Linked DNA regions of Homo sapiens. The protein of the gene in region 2 purifies or fractionates together with the protein of the main gene of each other region. This does not show direct contact. Each region holds a gene or a part of one and is shown on either strand. Other genes may lie near its edges.

Region 1 (3,500 bases), on a different chromosome or scaffold from region 2:
TATAATCCCAGCACTTTGGGAGGCCGAGGCAGCTGGATCACCTGAGGTCAGGACTTTAGAGACCAGCCTGGCCAACATGGCGAAACCCCGTCTCTACTAAAATTACAAAAATTAGCCAGGCATGATGGCGGGGGCCTGTAATCCCAGCTACCCAGGAGGCTGAGGCAGAAGAATTGCTTGAACCCAGGAGGAGGAGGCTGCAGTGAGCCGAGATTGTGCCACTGCACTCCAACCTGGGCAACAGAGACTCTGTCTCAAAAAACAAGAAAAAAGAAAATCAGGAGAATATAGAAAAGTATGAAGGCTGAAATAACATTTGGGGTTGATCATAGAAAACTGTGTAATGGGTTCAATGTATATTATTTAGGGGATGGACGCCCCAAAATCTCTGACTTCACCACTTCACAATCTATGCATGTAACAGAATTACACTTGTGCTCCATAAGTTTATACAAATTAAAAAATAATAGTAATATTCAACCTATAAGTCTGTTTTTTTTTTTTTTTTTTTTTTTTTGAGACAGAGTCTCATACTGTGGCCCAGGTTGGAGTGCAGTGGCGTGATCTTGGCTCGAGAAAAAAATAAAAAGACTCAACTGTTCCCTTCCCCATGAGACAATGTCCCCACAGGAGGAGGAAGTGCAAGTCAGGCCTCAGCAATTCAATGTGGCCACCACCCCCCAGCCCCTGACCCCTTCCTCCTGCTTCTTGGAAGTGACCCAAAGGTTTGGCCATTACATATGATGGTGATAAAAACAGACGTGACACGGCCAGGCACGGTGGCCCATGCCTGTAATCCCAGCACTTTGGGAGGCCGAGGCAGGAAGATCACTTGAGCCCAGGGGTTGGAGACCAGCCTGGGCAACATAGCAAGACCCCGTCTCTACAAAAATATTTTTTATTTGTTATTTTTTAAAAATATTTATTTATGTATTTATTTATGAGATGGAGTCTCACTGTGTCGCCCAGTGACTGGAGTGCAGTGGCACGATCTCGGCTCACTGCAACCTCTGCCTCCTAGGTTCAAGAAATCCTCCTGCCTCAGCCTCCCAGGTAGCCGGGATTACAGGCACCTGCCACCACGCCCGGCTAATTTTTGTATTTTTAGTAGAGATGGAGTCTCACCATATTGACCAGGCTGGTCTCGACCTCCTGACCTCAAGTGATCCACCCGCCTTGGCCTCCTAAAGTGCTGGGATTATAGGCATGAGCCACCATGCCTGGCTTCCACAAAAATAAAAATAAAAAATTAGCCGGGCGTGGTGGTGGGTGCCTGTGGTCCCAGCTACTCAGGAGGCTGTGGCACGGGAATCGCTTGAACCCAGGAGGCAGAGGTTGCAGTGAGCCGATATTGCGGCACTTCACTCCAGCCTGGGCACCAGAGTGAGTCTCTGTCTCAAAAAAATAAAAAAATAAAAATGGACTTGACCCAAGTGTCCAAACACAGGGGACAACTGGGGACAGAAAAGCCCATTCATTCCTAGTGCTGAGGATCAAATGAATCCCAGCTCCTCCTCCACTGACCAACCATATCACCTCAAGCAACTCATCTCCCCTCTCTAAGCCTCAGTTTACCCTTCTGCAAAACAACATTAAGGATGGTCCTGGCATCCTGCTGCTCCGCCTTCCCTGGGGATACCCAGACCTGCCTGTGATCCATATCCGGCCGGCTGAGAAACTTACCAGGATGTAATCAGCCCACATGTCTCGAGCTGATTTCAGGGCTGCCTGGCGCAACTTCATGACATGCTCGTAGCGTGAGTCAGACCAGTGTTTCGGGCCTTCCTCGTCCGGGTAGGACCTATGGGGAGGCAGCTGTGATGTGGACATCACAAGGCACTATCAAAGCCCAGCGAGGGCCTGAGCTGCCTTCGGGGTACTCAGAGAGAGCTTCCTGGAGGAGGGGACGTGTAAGCTGATCTGAGGGATGGGAAAAAGTAAACGACGAGGAAAGAGAAGTGGGGAGAATGTTCCTGGCCGGAGGTACAGCCTGTGCAAAGGCCTGGAGGGAAGAAAGCCCGAGGCACACTGGAGGGAAGGAAGGAAGGAAGCTCAGTGGGGTCCAGTGCAGTGGCCCACGCCTGCGATCCCAGCACTTTGGGAGGCAGAGGTGGGAGGATCGCTTGAGGCCAGCACTTTGAGACCAGCCTGGGCAACACAGTGAGACCCTATCTCTACAAAAAATACAAAAACATTAGCTAGGCATGGTTACATGTGCCTGTAGTCCCAGCTACTCAGGAGGCTGAGGCGGGAGGATGGCTTGAGCCCAGGAGTTAAAGGCTGCAGTAAGCTGTGTTCACTCCACTGCACTCCAGCCTGGGTGAGGGAGTGAGACCCTGTCTCAAAAAAAAAACAAAAACCCAGAAAGGAACTGGGTGGGGGCAGGGAGTCCATGCTGCCCAGGGCTTTAGGGAGTAGATAAACAGCAAAGCCAGTGCTGGGACCAAGACTGAGTCAGTGAGCCAGGGAACAAAGCAGTGGGCGTCCCCAGAAGAAAAAGGGAGTGAAAGAATTCTAGGTACAGGGAACGGCTTGGGCAAAGGTCTGAGAAGAGGATTATGGCCTATTTGTAAAGCTGAGGGAGGCTCAGAGTAGCTTAATGCTGCCTGGCTGGGCTGGAGGCAGGGACTGAGGGCCTGTAATTGTTCTGGGGCAATGGGGAGCCATAGAGGGTGTGTGAGCAGAGGCAAAGCCCAATCAGACTAGGAGCAGGGGAAAGATGCTCACCTGGGCTCCTCTGCTGGCCGCCACTCCACGGAATGGTACAAACTCTTCACGGCCACCAGCCACTCCCGCAGCACAGTTGACGTGTTATCCATGTTGTGGTCCGTAGCCACCCTGCAGGGAGAGGGGACAGGCAGCGTACTTGGGGAGACTGAGGCAGGACCAGGCAGCAGTGAGGCAAGTCAAGGACCACCATCCCCAACTGGCCTCCCACCAGCTATGTATCCCTGGACAGGACACTTCTCCCTTTCCTTTGTTTTTTTTTGAGACAGAGTCTCGCTCTGTTGCCCAGGCTGGAGTGCAGTGGCGCGATCTCGGCTCACTGCAAGCTCCGCCTCCCGGGTTCACGCCTTCTCCTGTCTCAGCCTCCCAAGTAGCTGGGACTACAGGCGCCCGCCACCACACCCGGCTAATTTTTTTGTATTTTTAGTAGAGACGGGGTTTCACCATGTTGGCCAGGCTGGTCTCGATCTCCTGACCTCGTGATCCGCCCACCTTGGCCTCCCAAAGTGCTGGACTTAACAAGCGTGAGCCACCGCGCCCGGCCCATTTCTCCCTTTCCATGTCAGTTTCCTCATCTGTAACATGGGGGTGGGAACAGGACCCAGTTTACTGGGAAGTGGAAGGATTAAACAAGCTGATTTTGGAAAGACCCATTAGTGATTGGCTGTTTTATTACTGAGCATCTAAGATCTTGCAAACCACATTCACTAACAAATATGTGTCACTTAATTTTTTTTTTCTTTTGAGACAGAGTCTTGCTCTGTCACCCAGGC
Region 2 (3,500 bases):
GTTGTTCTCAGGAAAATCAGGTAGCTATTTTGAGGGACATAGGCCCAGATGCAGGGCTGCAAGGACTCTGGTGCCCACCCTAGACTTTAAAAAGAGAACATTACCGGCCAGGCACGGTGGCTCACACCTGTAATCCCAGCACTTTGGGAAGCCGAGGCGGGTGGATCACGAGGTCAAGAGATAGAGACCATCCTGGCTAACACGGTGAAACCCTGTCTCTACTAAATATACAAAAAAAAAAAAAAAATTAGCCAGGCATGGTGGCGGGTGCCTGTAGTCCCAGCTACTCAGGAGACTGAGGCGGGAGGATGGCATGAGCCCAGGAGGCGGAGCTTGCAATGAGCTGAGATCGTGCCACTGTGCTCCAGCCTGGGCAACAGAGTGAGACTCCGTCTCAAAAAAAAGAACATTACCTGGGAGAGCAACTGTGGACGAGGGAAAGGAAGAGCTGTAGCTTGGGTTTCTGACGGGGGTGCTGGGTTCCATCAATGGGAAGGGATGGGAGAGGACAATGCTGAACCAGCTGCAGGCTCTGGGCCCAGTTGAGGGTGGAGCTAAGGAGACTCCATGCCACCATGAATGTGGCCACAGCTGCCTTCCAGGAGGCCTGGTTCTCAGGGTGGCATCTCAAAGCCATGCCCACCTGCTCTACCTGGCAAATGCCAGGCTCCTCCTCAACCCCAGAAGGCCCAACTATAATGAGGACCGTGCTGAGAAACTCCCCTTGACCCCCACCTGTGATAGAACAGCCCTTCCCTCCAGAATCCCACCACCCCTATTTCACACCTCTGTCACTGAGCATTGACTGTCATCAGCACTCTCTTGCCTGCCCCGTTACACGTGAACAAGGGACCATGTCGAATCCAATTCTCTTTTTAAAATTGTTTCTTTTTTTTTTTTTTTTTGGAGATGGAGTCTCACTCTGTCCACCCAGGCTGGAGTGCAGTGGCATGATCTCGGCTCACTGCAACTTCTGTCTCCCGGGTTCAAGCGATTCTCCTGCCTCAACCTCCCAAGTAGCTGGGACTACAGGTGCACGCTGCTAGGACGGCTAATTTTTTGTATTTTAGGAGAGATGGGGTTTCACTGTGTTGCCCAGGCTGGTCTTGAACTCCTGAGCTCAAGCAATCTGCCTGCCTTGGCTTCCCAAAGTGCTAGGATTACAGGCGGGAGCCACCATGCCTGGCCTCTTTGTTTGTTTTTTGAGACAGAGTCCCGCTCTGTCGCCCAGGCCAGAGTGCAGTGGTGCGATCTCGGCTCACTGCAACCTCCACCTCTCAGGTTCAGGCAATTCTCCTGCCTCAGTCTCCCAAGTAGCTGGGATTACAGGCGCGCATCACCATACTCGGCTAATTTTTGTGTTTTTTAGGGTTTCGCCATGTTGGCCAGGGTGGGTCTCAAACTCCTGACCTCAGGTGATCTGCCCACCTCGACCTCCCAAAGTGCTGGGATTACAGGCATGAGCCACCATGCCCGGCCACAATGAATCCAATTCTGTGTCCCCAGTGTCCAGCCAACAGCCCGGTTCCTAGTGGATGTTAAGCCACCTTGGTTGGGTGGACGGACAGATAGATGAATGGACAGATGGGTGTGCAGGAAGTTGAGCCAAGGGCACAGAACAGAGATCACCATTTCTCATCCCATCAGACAGTGACATAACTTCCATGGTTTCCGGGGTCTCTGTCCCCAGCCAAGCCTAGACCAGTGCCAGCCGCGTCTGTGATGTGAGAGACAGCCCCTTGCCAGCAGCTCTGCCTGAGTGTTGGTGTCCAGCGACTACTTTGGAGCAAGCCCAGCTGGCATCGTAAATGCATGCTCTTCCTACATCAGCCTTGTACCCAGCAGTGTATCACCTACAGCTAGGGCTAGGCCAGCGTGTGCCACGAATATGCAGGGGGGAAAGTGGGCGTGTGGATGGGAGAGGAACAGAGATGAGCCGGTAACAGAGGGGCAAACCTCCAGCCTCATTTTCGGGTTTAGCATCTAATCCTTTTGTCAGGGTTTCCCTGGACCCCGAGGAGAGAAAGGTGATCGGAGCGAGCGTGGAGAGAAGGTGAGGGCAGCTGGACGGGAGCTGGGGCAGGAGGAGAGGGGGAAGGAGGCAGGTGGGAGTGGAGGCTCAGGTGAAGCAGGTAGAGAGAACCCAGGCCGGGCAGGTGGGCGGAGGCAGGGGGAGGCTGGCCCCACGCGCTTCTCTCGGAGAGATGTTGGAGGTTCCTAAGCCTGGCAGCCATGACCAATACCACCATCTCCCCTCCTGCACAGGGAGAACGAGGGGTCCCCGGCCGGAAAGGAGTGAAGGGCCAGAAGGGCGAGCCGGGACCACCAGGCCTGGACCAGCCGTGTCCCGTGGTAGGTGTCGGAGGAGGGCCCTGCCCCAGGTCTTTTTGGCCTCCAGCCAGGGTCAGCCCAACATCTTCCCTGTCCTCGGAACTCAGCTGCAAGTCCCAGAGGCCCCACTGGTCACGCACTGGCCTTCCTCACTGTCAGGGCCACTGCTGCTGCTACTGCCATCATCGCGGTTCCCCTTGCTCTGGTCCTAACCACCCCCAACCATGGGCATGACTCAGGGAACCCAGCCCCTCTGTAGAGCTGGAGGCCCAGCCCCTCATTCTTCACCCCCAGGACAGGCCTGGCTTGAGTAGGAACCCACTGTGGGCCATCTTGGGCTGGAAGTGGACAGGGCCTAGACCAGGAGTGGAGGGGCTTTACCTGGAGTCATCAGCACCATCAGCGGTGCCCTGGGAGGGGGCTGGGCCCTGCGGAGGGAACCAAAGTTAGCACAGACACGCTGCCGCTGGGGGCGGAGGCAGTGAGTGCCCAGCCCCATCGCTGTGGTCTGGCTGCCTGGGGTGGAAGTCGGGGTCTGACTCCCACTGGGCCTGAGGCCAAGCTGAGCTGAAACTCAGCTTCCCCAAGCACAGACGGTGGGACCACCCTGACCTCTCTGGCTGGCTGTGCCTCCCCTTCCTTCCTCCTTCCCAGAAGAGTCTCTCTGGGCTGGGGCAGCACCTCCCTCTTCCCCACATCCCCTCTGCCTACCCCCACACCCTTCCTGTACCTCTTTCTGTGCTCTCTCAGTGGCCTTTGGCAGCCCACCAGCCCCAGTGGTTTCAGGCACTGGTGCCTGAAACAACCACAGTTCAAAAGTCAGCTCCATTTATTTCTTTTCGGAGACAGAGTCTCACTCTGTCGCCCAGGCTGGAGCGATCATGGTTCACTGCAGCCTCCATCTCCCAGGCTCAAGTGATCCTCCTGCCTCAGCTTCCCAAGTAGCCAAGAACTACAGGCATGCACCACCATGCCCAGCTAATTTTTAATTTTTGTAGAGCTGGGGTCTTGCAATGTCGTCCAGGCTGGTCTGGGCTCAAGCGATTGTCCCACCTTAGCCTCCCAGAGTGCTGGGACGACAGGTGTGAGCCACTGTGCCCTGCCTAGTTCCTTTTTCTAGAAAGTAGGGAGGGTTTACATGTCACACTCTTCCGGTGGAGCTCAGAAAA

The links. Proteins that work in one complex are often made in the same cells at the same time.
Region 1: the proteins of COL23A1 (region 2) and COLGALT1 purify together in Homo sapiens (affinity purification with mass spectrometry; one large-scale study listed by BioGRID and IntAct). This does not show direct contact.

The regions. Positions count from the first base shown.
Region 1 is NC_000019.10:17,558,649-17,562,148, reverse strand, and holds part of COLGALT1 (procollagen galactosyltransferase 1 precursor), read right to left. Parts: intron 2,839-3,500; coding exon 2,728-2,838; intron 1,802-2,727; coding exon 1,684-1,801; intron 1-1,683. UniProt on the Homo sapiens protein: Beta-galactosyltransferase that transfers beta-galactose to hydroxylysine residues of type I collagen. By acting on collagen glycosylation, facilitates the formation of collagen triple helix. Also involved in the biosynthesis of collagen type IV.
Region 2 is NC_000005.10:178,240,894-178,244,393, reverse strand, and holds part of COL23A1 (collagen alpha-1(XXIII) chain), read left to right. Parts: intron 1-1,999; coding exon 2,000-2,053; intron 2,054-2,265; coding exon 2,266-2,352; intron 2,353-3,500.